2 separate regions of the Homo sapiens genome follow, and region 1 is linked to region 2. The links come from fine-mapping of genetic effects on gene expression. Tissue or cell type: whole blood. Region 2 holds a variant in brackets; the other region holds the start of a gene. All regions are shown on one strand. Distances are between the middles of the regions.

What was found. PIP is the estimated chance that this variant, and not a neighbour inherited with it, causes the effect.
Region 1: it holds the start of EEF2K, and the variant in region 2 is fine-mapped to the expression of EEF2K in whole blood (INTERVAL, PIP above 0.99).

What each region holds. Positions count from the first base shown.
Region 1 is chr16:22,202,998-22,211,102 of GRCh38, reverse strand. It overlaps EEF2K (eukaryotic elongation factor 2 kinase), which reads right to left and starts at 4,825. Exons shown (of 18, transcript NM_013302.5): 1 at 4,424-4,825. RefSeq lists an enhancer at 663-1,163 and silencers at 4,325-4,594, 4,755-5,054.
Region 2 is chr16:21,998,554-22,006,658 of GRCh38, reverse strand. It overlaps PDZD9 (PDZ domain containing 9), which reads left to right and starts at 5,543. Exons shown (of 4, transcript NM_001363519.1): 1 at 5,543-5,642. The coding sequence starts at 5,612. It also overlaps the pseudogene LOC100420536. RefSeq lists an enhancer at 5,348-5,397. The variant C/A (reference allele first, on the strand shown) is at 3,318.

The DNA.
Region 1 (8,105 bases), 200 kb before region 2:
TCCTTTCTCCCCTGCCTGGCCACGGACATTTCCCAGCATCCCTTGCAGCTAGGTAAGGTCATGTGACTGCATTCTGGCCAATGAAAGAGCACAAATAACTTGTACCATTTCTGAGCCCGTCCAGCAGCCCATTTTCCATACCCTGGTTGGCTTCCTCTCCACTGTGATCCTGCCCAGAACAGATTGGTAGCATTTCAGTATCACTTACAAAGCACTTGCTACATAACTCCTCCCAGCTCCCTAGAAGGCAGGCACTCCTTCCTCCTCGGGCTCTGAACATGCTATGCCCTCTGTCTGGTACACACCCCAGCCTGTCCTCCCTACTCATCCCCTGGCCAACTTGACTGCTCATCCCTCAGGTCTCAGCTTAGATATCACCTCCTTCATGAAGCCTCCCCTGAACCCCAGGAGTTAGTCGCTCTTAGCTTCATTCTACAGATGAGAAAACTAAGGAACAGAGAGGTTATGTGACTTATCCCAAATCACATGACTAGAGTTGGGTTTGAAGCTGGTGCGGGCTGAATCCAGAGCTTTCAATGCAGTCATCACTTCCTTAACCAGCGCTTCTAAAAGTATGGGACCAGCTGCCGCAGCAGCCACTGCAGCAGCCTCACCTGGCAACTTGCTGGTAATGCAAATTCTCAAGCCTCACTACAGACCTACTAAATTAAACTCTGGGGATGGGTCCAGCAATCAAAGTGTAAGCAAGTCCTGCTGGGGATGCTGATGTGCACTGAAGTTAGAGAAACGCTGGCCTAGGGCAATTTTCCGCAGTTTAGCCACCTACTTCCGGGTGCTTCCTCTGGCTTGCTAGTCCTTGCTAGAGCTCGAAAGCTTCACAGCTGGAGAACAGAACGCCATCCACCTTCTGACTCTGGAGCCATTTGAGACGCTTCTCTAGGAGTCCCACAGCCCTGGGACTTTGGGGGTTGTGGGGAGCACTGTTATTTTCTGCTTTATCATCAGCGTGTTAGTGACTCACTCCTTCCTTTGTCTGAAGCCTTCTTATATGGTTGGGCACGGCTCATGCCTGTGATCCTAACACTTTGGGAGGCCCAGACAGAAGAATCGCTTGAGCCCAGAGTTCAAGCCCAGCCTGGGCAACAGAGTGAGACCCCATCTCTACACTAAAATTAAAAGTTAGCCAGCCATGGTGGTAGCTCATGTCTGTAGTCCCAGCTACTTGGGAGGCTGAGGCAGGAGGATCACTTGAGCCGAGGAGTTCCAGGCTGCAGTGAGCTGTGACTGTGCCACTGCACCGCAGCCTGGGTGACAGAGCAAGACCCTGTCTCAAAACAACAACAAAAAAGAAGCCTCCTTGCTTGTGCTCATCAGCCTTGGCTGCAAGAATTTGATCCAGCAACACTTTAAGGCCCAAGCCGCTTTCATCCCAGGTGGAGACAAGGTCATCGCTCTAACCACCTTCTAGGAGCCTTCTCAGTTCATCAGGGTAATAACCTGCAGCTTTCAGGTCAGCAGAACCAATCTCCCTCAACAAAAAACACTGATTCTTTTAAATTAGTTCAACCTGCCGCTATTACTTTGTCTATAGCCCTGATCATTCAGTTGTTCTGCTTCAGGTGTAAGAACTGGACCAGAAATAGTGAATCCCGGAGAACGAGCTTGAACAAGTCCAAGCTTCTGCTGTTCACCCTTGGCTTTCTTCACACAGCTCCCAGAGTCCCGGCAACCAGACGACAACCCTGCCAAAAACTGGACAAGACTGCTTTGGGGACTCTCCCCACAGCAAGATAACAACCCTAAAGACATCCTTCCCGGGTGGGCATGGTGGCTCATGCCTGTAATCCCAGCACTTTGGGAGGCGGGTGGATCACTTGAGGTCAGGAGTTTGAGACCAGCCTGGCCAACACAGTGAAATCCCATCTCTACTAAAAATACAAAAATTAGCTGGGCACGGTGGCATGTGCCTGTAGTCCCAGCTCATACTCAAGAGGCTGAGGCAGGAAAATCACTTGAATCTGGGAGGCAGAGGTTGCAGTGAGCTGAGATCACACTACTGCACTCCAGCCTGGGCAACAGAGCAAGACTCCATCTCAAAAACAACAAACACTCCCTCTGGCTTGTGGCTCTGCCCTCCTCTAGGCCTTCAAAGTCGCCTTGACTTGTCCAACAAATAAGGAAAGAGTGAGAGGTTTTTAGGGTCGAGGCTTGAAATGGACACACTCACATTTCATCAGCCAAAACTCAGCCGTGTGGCCCTACCGAATGGTAAGGAAGCCTAGGAAAATTCATCCAGGGAGCACCCCAGGAGGACGAGAACATGGGTACTGGTGACCCATAGCTTTCTCTGCCACATAATACAGTAAAATGTTTTAAAAGCAAATCAGAGATTTTTTTTTTTTTAAATAGAGACCGGGTTTCACCCCGTCAGCCAGGCTGGTCTTGAACTCCTGGGGTCAAGCAATCCTCCCGCCTCAGCACCCCCAAAGTGGCTGGGATTACAGGTGTGAGCTACCACACCCAGCCAGTGATATATCCGTAATCAGCCAAAAAGTACTGTACAGTTACAAAAAGCACAAGAAAAACAAATTGGTGGATCTTTTTTATTTTTTGAGACAGAGTCTCGCTTTGTTGCCCAGTCTAGAGTGCAGTGGTGCAATCTCAGCTCCCTGCAAACTATACCTCCTGGGTTCAAACGATTCTCGATTCTCCTGCCTCAGCCTCCCGAGTAGCTGGGATTACAGGCTCATGCCAACATGCCCAGCTAATTTTTGTATTTTTAGTAGAGATGGGGGCTCCCTATGTTGGCCAGGCTGGTCTCAAACTCCTGACCTCAAGTGATCCACCTTCCTCAGTCTCCCAAAGTACTGAGATTAAAGGCCTGAGCCACCACGCCCCTGGCCCAAAACACCGGTAGCTCTTGGAATGTACACCGATGATTATGTGTAAACTGTGACCACTTCAGTTCTGTCTTCTGGCCTCCCCATTCCCTGCAGAGGATAAGAACTTCGGACCCCACCCCCTTCTTTGAGAATGGGGGCTGAGAGGAGGGCGGACGCCAATCCCAGCCATGTTACACTGAAATTCATGTCCTTGAGAGGTTTTACTGTAGTTGTTGAATTAATAGCTGAACAAAGGAATGAACATCGGGTGCTGTGGAGGCCACACAGAAGGAAGACACCTGCATACGCCATCTCTGAACTCTACCTCCTTCCACCTGCCTCTTCCCCAGCTCAGCTTAAACAGCACTTGCTACAGGAAGCCTTCCCCCATAACCCTCTCCCCTTTACACACACAGTGGGCATTCTCAGCTCCCACCTGCTTGCTCTGTATTCCCATTTACTCCATCTCGCTTTTTAGAATCTGTTTATGTGACTGGCTTCCTCTTAGGGAGCTTCTGTGGGCCTGGGGATCACTCTGACCCTCGGTTTCCTCCTCGCTAAAAACATTAGGATAGACTACGTGACTCAATTCGCTGTGACTTCACAGCCTGTCCAGGGCCCTCAACCACAGGGCTCTTGGCCATCAGATGTCTCCCGGGGCCATAGACTATGACACTGTGTGCCAGGCACTGTTCCAAGCACCTGACATATACATACTCATCTACTCTTTCCAAGGATACTAAGTGGTAGATACTAATACTGTACCCATTTTACCGATGAGAAAACCGAGGGCCAGAGAGCATAAATGAGCTAGAATTCCAACCCAGGACTCCAGCCCTAGTGTTTCCTGCTTTCCTGGCTGAAGAAGCACCCACCACCGAGGTCCCAGAGGTCGGGCTCCCTGGGACCGTCCCCCTGGGCAGATCTCACTTCCCCATGCGGCCCATCTGTCACACTCAGGGCGCAGCTGGGCTGGTTCCCCGAAATCCCCCAGGCGCGCGCAAAAGGATCTAGGCCGGGGCTTACCCGGGAGGCCCCCACCCCCGCGCGGCCACCGGCTTATTAATGCCCAGCCCCTTGGCACACATGTCAGCAGCGCCTGCCAACAAACTCCCGCAGCCAACAATGCAGCAAGGGCGCGTCTATACAGTCCTGGAGGTTCCGGGAATTCGGGCTGACGCAGGCCTCTAGTTCAGGGGAAAGGTGGGGGATGCGGCTCTGAGCCCTGCAGGGGACAGGAAGGCAGCGATGCGCCCACACTCTAGGGGCCCCGAGGGGGGAGGCCCCCAAACTCTCTGTCACTTGCAGCCAGATCACCGCCCATTGCTTGCCAATTGCTTTCCATATCCACATCGCCTTTAATCCGCACAACTTCCCCATTTCTCCAAAGCAAGCACTTAGCCCCAGAGAGTTTAACAACCAGAGGAGAAGCGCCCCCACACTCTCCTTCCATGCCTTCTCCGGCCCCATTCCCAAGCCCAGACCCAGCACGCTCCAGACGCCAGCTGCACCCGGGCGCACAGGCCTGCAGCGCGGGCTCCCAGCCCCCCACAGCCTTGCCGGCCGCGGTCCACACCTACCTCCCTCGGGCAGACAGGCGCGGCAGCCGCTGCCCACGGCCGCGAGGGTCCAGAGGAGTTGGCAGAGGCTCGCGGCCCGGAGCTCCAGGGTGCAGGGCGGGCGGGCCCCCCGAGAGTGCCGGGGAGCGGAGAGCGGGGAGCGCTAGCTGGCGCTCCGGGCAAGCAGCTGGGGCCACGCGGGGTAGATGGACCGATCCCAGGGCGCGCGGGGCAGTCGGAGTGATCCCAGGAAGGGCGCAGGGGCCGTTGGGACGATCCCGGGATGTGGGAGCGCGTGCCAGGGGGGACTCGCGTGCAGGCGACAGCGAGCGGGACTCGGGTGGCTGCAGGGCCGGGAGTGCGGGCGCTCGATCCAGGAAGGAGGGGAGCTGAGGCTGAAGCTGGGGCTGGTCTAGGTTGAGCAGAAGCGGGCGGGCAGGGGCGGGGCTGGCCTGGCGGGCGCACGGCGTGGCGCTCACGTGGCCGCCCCCAGGTGGCCATCACAGCGCCTGCAGCCGCCTAGCGGGCCTCCTGGCTCCGGCGCTGGCTCCCAGCCCCAGGTGCAATGGTTAGCGCTAAGTCTTGGCTCCCCCTGCTGAGTACACAGTGTCCGGTTCTCCTGCTCAAGGCTGGCCTAGCATCCGGCAGCGAGGGGGCAATTCGAGGGAGTGACCAACTTCCGTCCTCTCCCGCCGCGCCTCGCCATTCTCGCCTGCTTCTCGCTTAGTTCCTGTATTCCTGTCCTTTCCAAAATCATTAGTGATCCAAGCCCATCGCTTGTTTGTATGTATCTCTATCCATAACCTTAAAATATTTTTTATCGGAAATACTTTGTTTTTCCTGATTTCTGCTTTGTAAAAACAGGCACGTATGACGATTGCAATTATTTGTGTAGTTTTAAAATTAGTATCTCCTTTAGTTATTCCTAACTCTTGACACAGGGCCTGGGTGGCACACAGTAGATGCTTAATAAATACCTGTGGCATGAGTGGTAGAGTGGCTAAGGTATAAAAAAGAAAACGAATTAAAACTAATAGCTACTGTGAACACTTTAATATTAGGTCCTTCCAGATACTTTGTTAGTGAAATTTTAGAAATTTCACACATTCTAGATAGAAAAGTAGTAACAATGACATGTTTTGAGGGATTTCTCTCATTCCATCTTCCCAGCACTTTGGGAGGCCGAGGCCGGCAGATCACCTGAGGTCAGGAGTTCGAGACCAGCCTGGCCAAAACGGTAAAACCCTGTCTTTAGTAAAAATACAAAAAAGCAGCCGGGCGCGCCTGTAGTCCCAGCTACTCTGGAGGCTGAGGCACGAGAATCGCTTGAACCCTGGAGGCAGAGGTTGCAGTGAGCCGAGATCGCGCCACTACACTCCAGCCTGGGTGAAGGAATGAGACTCCGTCGCAAAAAAACAAAAACAAAAAAATAAAAAAGAAAAAAGAACAAAACTGAGGCTTATAGAGATAATGACATGCCCCAGGTGAGGCAGCTAGAAAAGGCAGAGCCAGCAGTAAATCCAGACTTCTCTGATTTCAAAGTTCAGGCTCTCCAAAGAACTTTTTTCCTTATTTATAAACCCCAAAGAGAGTAAACTCCAGCTTTTGGCAAGACAAAATTGCACCTGGAATTCTGACCCTGGGGCCGTCAGGCAGGAAGGGAAGATCAAAGATGCTGAACTAGTCTGTCCAAGCCCAAAGCAAGATTGGAAAAAAAAAAAAGACGCTACTGCTTAAAGCTCTATGGCCCTTGGGCAAGTTATTTTACTTCTCTGAGCCTCTGTCATTTTTGTCTGCCCAGCAGGAGTGTCCTTCTTTGCATTAGCGTCTTGGTTAGTCTTCAGGGAACCAGTTCACCCTATTTCAGTTCAGGAAAATAGCCCTCCCCACTCCCCTGGCTCCAAAAATGGACACATGACCAGACCTGGCCAATTAGCATATTTCATCCCTTCAGCCTCATTGATTGGTTCAGGGATGAGCATGTGATCCAAGTTAGGCCAGTGAAATACTAATCTGGGCCTTTTATAGTAACCATAAAAAGAGAATGTCTCTTTTCCAGGGAGTTGAGCAGATAGGATGTAATAGTAGAGTTTCTGAGCATTAATTCTTATGGCAAATTTTATTAAGCTCCTATTGTGTGCCAAATATGGTGCTAGGAATTGGGGGAAACATTTGCCTTCAAGGAGATGTCTACTGCGGTAAAATAAAATTACTCAAGGCCGGGCAAGGTGGCTCACACATGTAATGTCAGAGCTTTGGGAGGCCAAGGCAGGAGGATCAATGGGGCCAGGAGTTCAAAACCATCCTGGGCAACATAGCAAGACCCCTGTCTCTAAAATAAAACATTAAAAAAAAAAAAAACCCAGGTATGGTGGTGTGTGCCTGTAGTCTCAGATACTCAGGAGGCTGAGGCAGGAGGATCCCTTGGGCCCAGCAGTTTGAAACTGCAGTGAGCTATGATCATGCAGTGCACTTCAGCCTGGGCAACAGAGTGAGACCCTGTCTGTAAAAATTAAATAAATAAATGAAAAAGGCCAGGCTCAGTGGCTCATGCCTGTGATCACAATACTTTGGGAGGCAGGCAGATTGCTGGAGCTCAGGAATTTGAGACCAGCCTGGGCAACATAGCGAAACCTCATCTTTATAAAAAAATACAAAAATTAGCCAGATGTGGTGGCTTGCATCTATGGTCCCAGCTACTCAGGAGGCTGAGGTGGGAAGAACACTTGGACCTGGGAGGCAGAGTTTGCAGTGAGCCAAGATCCCGCCACTACACTCTAGCCTGAGGGACAGAGTAAGACCTTCTCTCAAAATACAATAACAAAAACAAACCACAAACAAAAAAGAAAGTGAAAAGACAATCAGAGAATGGGGAAAAAATATTTGCAAATCATATCTGATAAGGGATTTGCAGCTAGAATATATAAAGAATTGTTACAACTCAATAATAAAAGATAAATACTCCAATTTAAACATGGGCCAAAGATTGGAATAGACATTTCTCCAAAGAAGATATACAAATGGCCAATAAGGACATGAAAAGGTGCTCAACGTCATTAGCCACTAAGAAAATGCAAGGCCAGGCATGGTGGCTCATGCCTGTAATCCTAGCACTTTGGGAGGCCAAGGTGGGATGATGGTGTGAGCCCAAGAGCTCCAGATCAGCAAAGGCAACATAACAAGACCCTCATCTCTACAAAAAAACAAAATAGAAAAATTAGCCAGGCTCGGTGATGTGTGCCTGTAGTCCCAGCTACTCGACAGGCTGAGGTGGGAGGATAGCTTGAGCCCAGGAGTTGGAGGCTGCCGTGAGCTATGATTGCACCACTGCACTCCAGCGTGGGTGACCAAAAAAAGCAAGTCAAAACACACCCACTACCCACTAGCATGACTATAATCAAAATCTCAGATAATAGCAAGTGTTGGCAAGGATGTGGAGAAACTAGAACCCTCATACACTGCTGGTAGGAATGGAAAGCAGTTTGGCAATTCTTAAAAAAAATTAAACATGAAGTTACCGTATAACCCAGCAATTCAAATCCTAGCAGAAATGAAAACATATGTCCACACAAAAACTTATACAAAATGTTCATGGGAATATTATTCATAATAGGCAAAAGGTGAAAACAATCCAAATGACTGATGAATGCATAATTAAAATGCAGTAGGCCAGGCGGTGGCTTATGCCTGTAATCCCAGCACT
Region 2 (8,105 bases):
CTCTAGAAGGACCTAGAAGAGTGACATCTGTCTCTATTTTTGGAATGCTTACATGTCCACAAAATTCAGGAGGTTTCAAATTCCACCAAATCCAACAGCCTTGCAGAAATGTGCAACAGAGTATCAGTGTCACTACATAGCTGGGAGAAGGAAGGGTTTGATTGCTGGTCTATATTGACTTTTCTGTCCAAACATTGGTCTCTTGGGGGAAAGGTTTTTTTTTTTTGTTATTATACAATTTATTTTTCCTCTGCCACAGAAATTGACACAAGATAATTCATATACTCCAAGGATCCAGATATAATGCATATCACATTACTGCAATAGTCTTCAGTTTCTTTTTTCTTTTCTTCTTTTTTTAAATAAGTACTGGAGAAATTTAATTGAGTCATATTTGGCTTCTTGTTGGGGTTTTCTATTGCCCAGTGATAGAAGAAACTGTAACTATACAGGACTAAATTCCCAGATAATATCCACTGATGTTCTCTACTGGCCAGCTTAGAAGAATCCTAGGGCTGAATGTTTGAACAGTTTGCACATATTCTAACTCCAGCTGAATAGAATGATGATGATTGGGTTCTTGTGTTTACAATAAATACAAGTAGCCAAGCGTGGTGGTTTGCACCTATAATCCCAGCTACTCCAGAAGCTGAGGTGGGAGGATCACTTGAGTCCAGCAGTTCAAGACCAGCCTGGACAACACAGTGAGACCCCTGTCTCTAATAAATAAAATAAATAAATAATACAGTTCTTCCTTTTACCCTTTACAAATGGTTCTGGGTCTAAGATTAAAGCACAAGAACAACCAGTATTGAGTTAAAAGAATTTAAAACATTTTTATCATACTAATGGCTGCACATCAGTACAGAGAATAGTCACCTATCCCAAACCTTCCTACCATCCAGAATGGGAGGTGGGGTTGGCAGGGGCCAAACTGTTTACAGATTTCCCATTAATCCCTCTTTTTATCCCTATAGCTCTTTTCTTTTCTTTCTTTCCTTTTTTTTTTTTTTTTGTCAGAGATAGGGTCTCACTATGTTGTCCACGCTGGATTTCAACTTCTGGCCTTAAGTGATCCTCCCACCTCAGCCTCCCAAGTAGCTGGGACTACAGGCCCACACCACTGTGCCTGGCTGGTGTTTCAGAGTCCCCAGTCTCTGAGGTCTGCAGGACAGATCAGTCCCCTTCTCTCTGTATCTCAGTCTAGATTTTAGCAGAGGCAAACCCTAAGGGTTTGGGAGAGGTGATGGAGTGAAGCAGAGAGAATACAGAACTATGTTCTAGTTCCTGCCCTGCTCCTGACTTGACCTTGGGAAAGCCATGTCACCTCTCTGGGCCTTTTACCCCCATCTGGCCTAACAAGACTCCTGGCCTCGGTGACAGAAGCGTCCCATCCTCTCACCCACCCCTAAGCAGAGCAGCTGGGACTTTTCAGAAATGAGCCACAAGACTCCTTATGGCAGAAAGCCTTGGGGACCCAGAAGAACATAGAAGGCTTCCAGGAGGGAGATATGCTGTGCAGCCTGAAGTCATAAACAGCCATTCTGCAGCTGTTAAAGGGCCATGAACATGGCATGCTCTATTGTGATGGATGGCAGGCCTTGGCCAGAAGAGGCTGAATCCAGATGGGACCACGGGCAAAGCTGTGGAAGGGACTGTGTGATCACTCTTCTCTTTAAGGAGTATCTTCAGCCTGACAATAAACACACTGTCTCCCTAGGGGTTAGGTTTCGTGGGCCAAGAGCATGGTGGACGCACCACACATGTACCTGGGGTTTCTGGGGTTAGAGAAGACACAAGAAACTAAATCCAGAGTTAGCAGCTTGCGCCCGGGCTCAAATCTCAGTTTGTTTCATGGATTGGTTCCCTTTGAGCTGACTCAGAAATGCGATTATTGATTAGTGCAGAAAGTTTATTAGAGAGCCTTTGAGAATCAAGTCCTATGGGGAAAGGGAAGCAGGGGTGGGAAGAGGGAGAAGTCAGTCTGTGCTGCAGTCATGGGAGGCTTTGGCAGACCCCCAGGGGAGTTCTGAAACTAGGATAGCTGCTGAGTTGGCCTGAGTTGGAGTAAATGGGCCAAGTCTTTTCATCCCTGCACTGACCTGCCATGGAGCTTGGAGGGCAGCTCTCTTTAGACAAAGACAATTCCTCAAGAGGGCTGACAGCTGAGATCTGTCAACCTACCACCCACCCGGTAGGCGGGGAATAGTCCTTCAGTCCTGACCGAGGCAGTGTAGTGCAGCATTTGCAATAGTGCCCACATGGTGCTGTGCCTCTCATTTGCTACTTAAGTTTGGAGAGCAGCACTTTCAGGACCCTGGGGAATCTTTTCCTGTGGGAAACATATAGAGGAGGGTTAGTGGGAACTACAGCTCCTGCCGCCGCTACAGCTCATCTAGAGGCATAACGAACATACCCTTCAGTCCCCTCTTCTATCCATCCTAGAAACCTCTTCCCTTCTGCCAGCACCTCAGATGATCTAGGTGGCCTGCGTGATGGGGTGGTCTAGACCTCCATCCTTAGAGAGCCTGAGCACCTAGTTGCTGTGCACTTCTCAGGCAGTGGTTGCTGCATTTGTCCATTTACTGTCCAAATAGGGCAAAGGAGTACTAAGAGACACCTAAATAGATCACGTGGGTGCCCAATGTTCCTCCCTGCCCTGATGTGAAGTCTCAGCCTGATTCCTTCCCGGTAATTGAATACTCTTGTCTGCTTTCTCCCCCTGGTATACCATCCCATTTACTGCCTGTAAAAAATTAGCCATCTTAGAGTTTCCCTCTGCCAGAGGCTAGCTATGCTCCTCCTGTACCAGGGATGGGCACCTCATTATTACCTGGGTATTAGGTGATCCATCCTAGCATCTACTCTTTGGAAGAAGGAATAAAGCAGGGTCCGGGCGTGGTGGCTCATGCCTGTAATCCCAGCACTTTGGGAGGCTGAGGCGGGCAGATTACCTGAGGTCAGGAGTTTGAGACCAGCCTGGTCAACATGGTGAAACCCCTGTCTGTACTAAAAATACAAAAATTAGCTGGGCATGGTGGTGGGTGCCTGTAATCCCAGCTACTCAGGAGGCTGAGGCACGAGAATTGCTTGAACCTGGGCAGTGGAGGTTGCAGTAAGCCGAGATCACTCCACTGCACTCCATCCTAGGCAACAGAGTGAGACTCTCTCTGAAAAAAAAAAAAAAAAAAAAGGAATGAAGCAGGACAGGGCAGAGGGAAAAGTAAGGCTGCAGTGGACCACGTGGGGAGTTCTGAACCTGGGATGGCCCTGCATTGACCAGTCACCAGATGCTAGTTAATCTAGGAAGGTGAGAT[C/A]TTGGGCAAGGCGTTCTTTCCAGCCAGTAGTAGTAGTGAGGGTGGGAAGTGTAAGTCTTTCAGCCCTGAAGGGGGATCTGGGCAGCACAGCACCCAGGACAGTTTGTATCCTGCAGTTCCACCAATCAGTGTGACCTTGGCTTACTTGGCTTGGTGGAGTGTAGAGACCTCCGCTTTAAAGACACTTTTTAGCCTGGGGTGGAGGGAAGACTAAGGGGAGGCCAGGCACTGATATGCTCCATCACAGAACCATATATGCTGATGGGCTCTATTCCCACAAACTCTTACCCTTCCCCTGCTGGTAGGAAGATGGAGGAAAAAGATGTATTTTATGATAGAATTAAGTTGGTATCTATGTAGACCCCTGCCAGACTGTTTGGAAGAGGAAAGGTGACCTGTCACAAGAAGTCACCCACAGGAGACTTGAGGTGGAGAATAGCCCTTTGTACTGGTCTCTACGACACAGGTTTTATCTAATGAGAAATCTGTCCTGGCGCTCACGCCTGTAATCCCAGCACTTTGGGAGGCCAAGGCGGGTGGATCACCCTGAGCTCAGGAGTTGGAGACCAGTCTGGCCAACATGGCAAAACCCTGTCTCTACTAAAAATACAAAAATTAGCTGGGCGTGGTGACACAGGCTTGTGGTCCCAGCTACTCTGGTGGCTGAGGTGGAAGGATCGCTTGGGCCTGGAAGGCGGAGGTTGCAGTGAGCTGAGATTTTGTCACTGCACTCCAGCCTGGGTGACAGAATGAGACCCCATCTCAAAAAAAAAAAAAAAAAAAAGGAACCTAAAGAGGAATCTGCCCTGGCTTATTGTCTGTGTAGAGCCACAGAAACAACAGAATAAGCTTGGACATAACCAGATCTACCATGGAAATCTTTGCACAGTGCCTGACACCTAATAGGTGGTTAATGACTGTTTGTTGAAGGGATGGGGCAAGGTGCTTAGCCTCTCAGTTTCATCAGACCGGGGATAACACCAGGGCCTACCTCATTAGGTTTTCTCTTTCTTCTAGAATTTACTAACTCATTTATTCATTTTTATTTTTTGAGACAGGATCTTGCTCCATCACCCAGGCTGGAAGGTGGTGACTCAATCATAGCTCACTGCAGCCTTGAATCCTGGGCTCAAGTGATCCTCCCATCTCAGCCTCCTGAGTAGCTAGGACTACAGATGTGCACCACCATGCCCAGCTAATTTTTAAATTTTTTTTATAGAGAAAGGGTCTCACTATGTTGCCCAGGCTGATCTCAAACTCCTGGGCTCAAGCAGTCCTCCTGCCTCAGTCTCCTGAGTACCTAGGATTACAGGTGTTAGACACCACACCTGGCCTAGAATTTATTTTTAATAATTTATATTTTCCTAAAATTGTCCACTTCATCTGTTTTTTAAGTACAGGTTTCAAGAGGATAGAGCCTGTGTTTCTGTGTTTGTCTTGCTTACTGTTGTGTCCCCAGTATCAGTAAATGACAGAACAGCTCCCTGTAAATACTTGTTGTATGAGTGAATGTGTGTGGGAGGAAGAATTATCTTGGAAAAAAGAAGGAAGCATTAATAGTGCCTCTCCTAATAGTGACTCATTTTTTTTTAGGCCACCCTGGGGCCTTTTCTTATTCAAAACATTCATGAAAAAAAGTGCAGTTCCAAAGCATTGGAGCTACTGATGTAACAATTTTTTTAAAATACCATTATTAGAAGTGCAGCGGGGGATTCTCTGATCTTCTAGGTATTCTGTGATCTCCTGTGATCTTCTGGCTGTGATCTTCCTCTGCAGACCACCTCACATCTTTGAGACACCCTCCTCTGTGCCTTCTCCCCCTCCCTATTTCTTAGGTTCACCAAGAATGAATGAAGAAGCCAAGCGCGGTGGCTCATGCCTGTAATCCCAGCACTTTGGGAGGCTGAGGCGGGCAGATCGCTTGAGCCCATAGTGCAACAGTTGTGTTGAGCCTGAGCAACATAGTGAGACCCCCACCCCCTGCCCGTCTCTTAAAAAAAGAAAAAGAAAAGAAGGAATGAAGAAACCACCGTGGGTCAGGCACGGTGCTAACCTCTGCAGAAGTTTCCATACAGTACAATGGTGTGCAATGCCCACGCCACGTTTTGCAGGGTCCACGGGAAGCCTTGCGGCGACCTCACTGCCGCCCAATTTCTGGGCAGTGGCGGCGCAGCGCCCCCTGGCGGCCATCCCGAGGGCAGTGCCCGCGGGCAAGGTTCGAAACTGTTGGCATTGGGACTGACTCCAGCCTCTGCTCCGGGAGGCCCTCCCGGGCTGCCTGACCTCCCGGGACCATGCAGAAGGCCTCCCACAAAAACAAAAAAGGTAACTGGGGAGAAGGAAGCGGGTGAAGAAGCCCTGGGGACCAAGCCTTCGTCAATGTTCCTCCTCTGTAAAATGGCAACGGTGCACTCTTGGCCTGGGAGATAACCTCTCTCCATCGTTGTTGTTATCATCATCATCATTATCATCATCATCATCATCATCATCATCATCATCATCATCATCATCATCATTTGAGAAGGAGTCTTGCTTTGTCCCCCAGGCTGGAGTGCAGTGGCGCGATCTCAGCTCACTGCAACCTCTGCCTCCCAGGCTCAAGTGATTCCTCTGCCTTAGCCTCCCGAGTAGCTGGGATTACAGGTGCCTGCCACCATGCCCAGCTAATTTTTTATTTTTAGTAGAGATGGGATTTCACCATGTTGGCCAGGCTGGTCTCAAACTCCTGACCTCAAGTGATCCGCCCGCCTTGGCCATCGTTATTTTTATCAAGGTATAATTTCCATGCAGTAAGATCCCCCCTTTTAAAAGTACAGCTACCGTTTTGACAAGCTATACCCACGTTGAACCACCCCCTCCATCAAGATAGGGAACAGTTCCACCACTCCCTAAAATTACTTTGCAATGCCCAGTTGCAGCCAAACCCCACCCCACTGCAGCTCCTCACACCCCCATCTGTTTTTTACAGCGTTTTTTTTTTTTTGCCTTTTCCATGGAGAACATCATAAAAATGAAATCACATAGTAAGGAGCCTTTAAAAAATTATACCAATGTAAATAGGGACTTTGGCCCTTTCATTTTTATTAAAAGGGCACATAAATCTTAAAATAGCATATGGGTCACTGTATTTTATTTTTAGAGACAGAGTCTTGTTCTGTCGCTCAGGCTGGAGTGCAGTGGTATGCTCCTGGCTCACTGCAGCCTCCAATTCTTGGGCTCAAGCAATCCTCCTGCATCAGCCTCCCATAGCTGGGACTGTAGGCATGCACCACCACATTCAGCTAATTTTTTTTTTTTTTTTGAGACAGAGTCTTGCTCTGTGACCCAGGCTAGAGTGCAGCGGCATGATCTTGGCTTACTGCAACCCCCGCCTTCCAGGCGGGTTCAAGCGATTCTTGCCCCTCAGCCTCCAGAGTAGCTTGGATTACAGGCGTGAACCACCACGCCTGGCTGATTTTTGTGTTTTCAGTAGCAACGGTGTTTCACCATGCTGGCCAGGCTGGTCTCGAACTCCTGACCCCAAGTGATCCGCCCACCCTCGGCCTCCCAAAGTGCTGGGATTACAGGTGTGAGCCACCATGCCCAGCCTAAATAGAAGAGATGAGGTGTCACTATGTTGCCCAGGCTCTAATCACTTTATACTTCTGCTAGCCCCCAGGTGGGCTTACTGAAGGATGCAGACTCCTGCACTGAGCAATTCTTGTTCTTTATGGCTTTTTTCCGCACAGCATCAGGATTTGATAAGACTTGAGGTTGGCAAAGAGGCTGAACTAGGCAGGCAGGTGCCAGACAGCCTTAGGCTTTTTCACTGCAGGGCTGTTGTCATTTGGACTGCTTGTCCTTGGGAAGGTTGACATTGCTGTCTGACTAGCCTTGTAGCAAAACCTGTAAGTCTTTCATATTTTAGTCTGGTGCTTGGGGTCTGGCTCTCCGAGGACCATAGTGCTGCCTCCTCCACCTGGTTGTCCCCAAACACAGCAGCTCACTCTTTTCTGAGCTCACCCTTTTCCAGGGAGGAAGCATTGAAGATCTCACTTTCAACAGCAGTAGGATCATCTTTGTCAGTACCTTCGGGTTCCAGGGTCCCTGCCACTGGGCCCTAGCGAGCACTTTCCTCAGGTTTCATGTCTAATAGTTCATCCTGAGCATGCACTGTGTGAAGAGCCTTTGCCTAAAACACATAAAATACCTTTTCCATCTTCAGTGTTTTCCTTGTCGTGGTTTTCATCCTCTAATGAAATTAATTGACTCAGCTCCTGCACTGTTACATCTGTGCTTTCCTGCTGGGTGAGCTTCTTTTCTTCTTTCTCAACTAGTTTTTTCAGAGGGTTTTGTAAGTGCTTTAAAGTAGTGACTTCATATGGCTGATAACCTGTGAAGCTCTCATGGATGGCTGCCATAGTGTGAGAAGTCTTCTCTCCAAAATGAAGCAGAGTGGTCTGGTATGTTGCTAGCATTTGAGACAGGAGATTGCATGTATTTACTTGCTCCAAGAAAATCTACATCCAACTTCACTTTGTCAAGGTTTTTTTCTCTCTCTTTTTTTTTTTTTTTTTTTTTTTTTGAGATGGAGTCTTGCTCTGTCACCCAGGCTTGTAGCTGGGATTACAGGCATGCACCAACATGCCCAGATAATTTTTTTTTGTTTTTGAGACAGAGTCTCGCCCTGTCACCCAGGCTGGAGTACAATGGCGCCATCTCAGCTCACTGCAACCTCTGCCTCCTGGGTTCAAGCGATTCTCGTGCCTCAGCCTCCCAAGTAGCTGGGATTACAGGCCCGCGCCACCA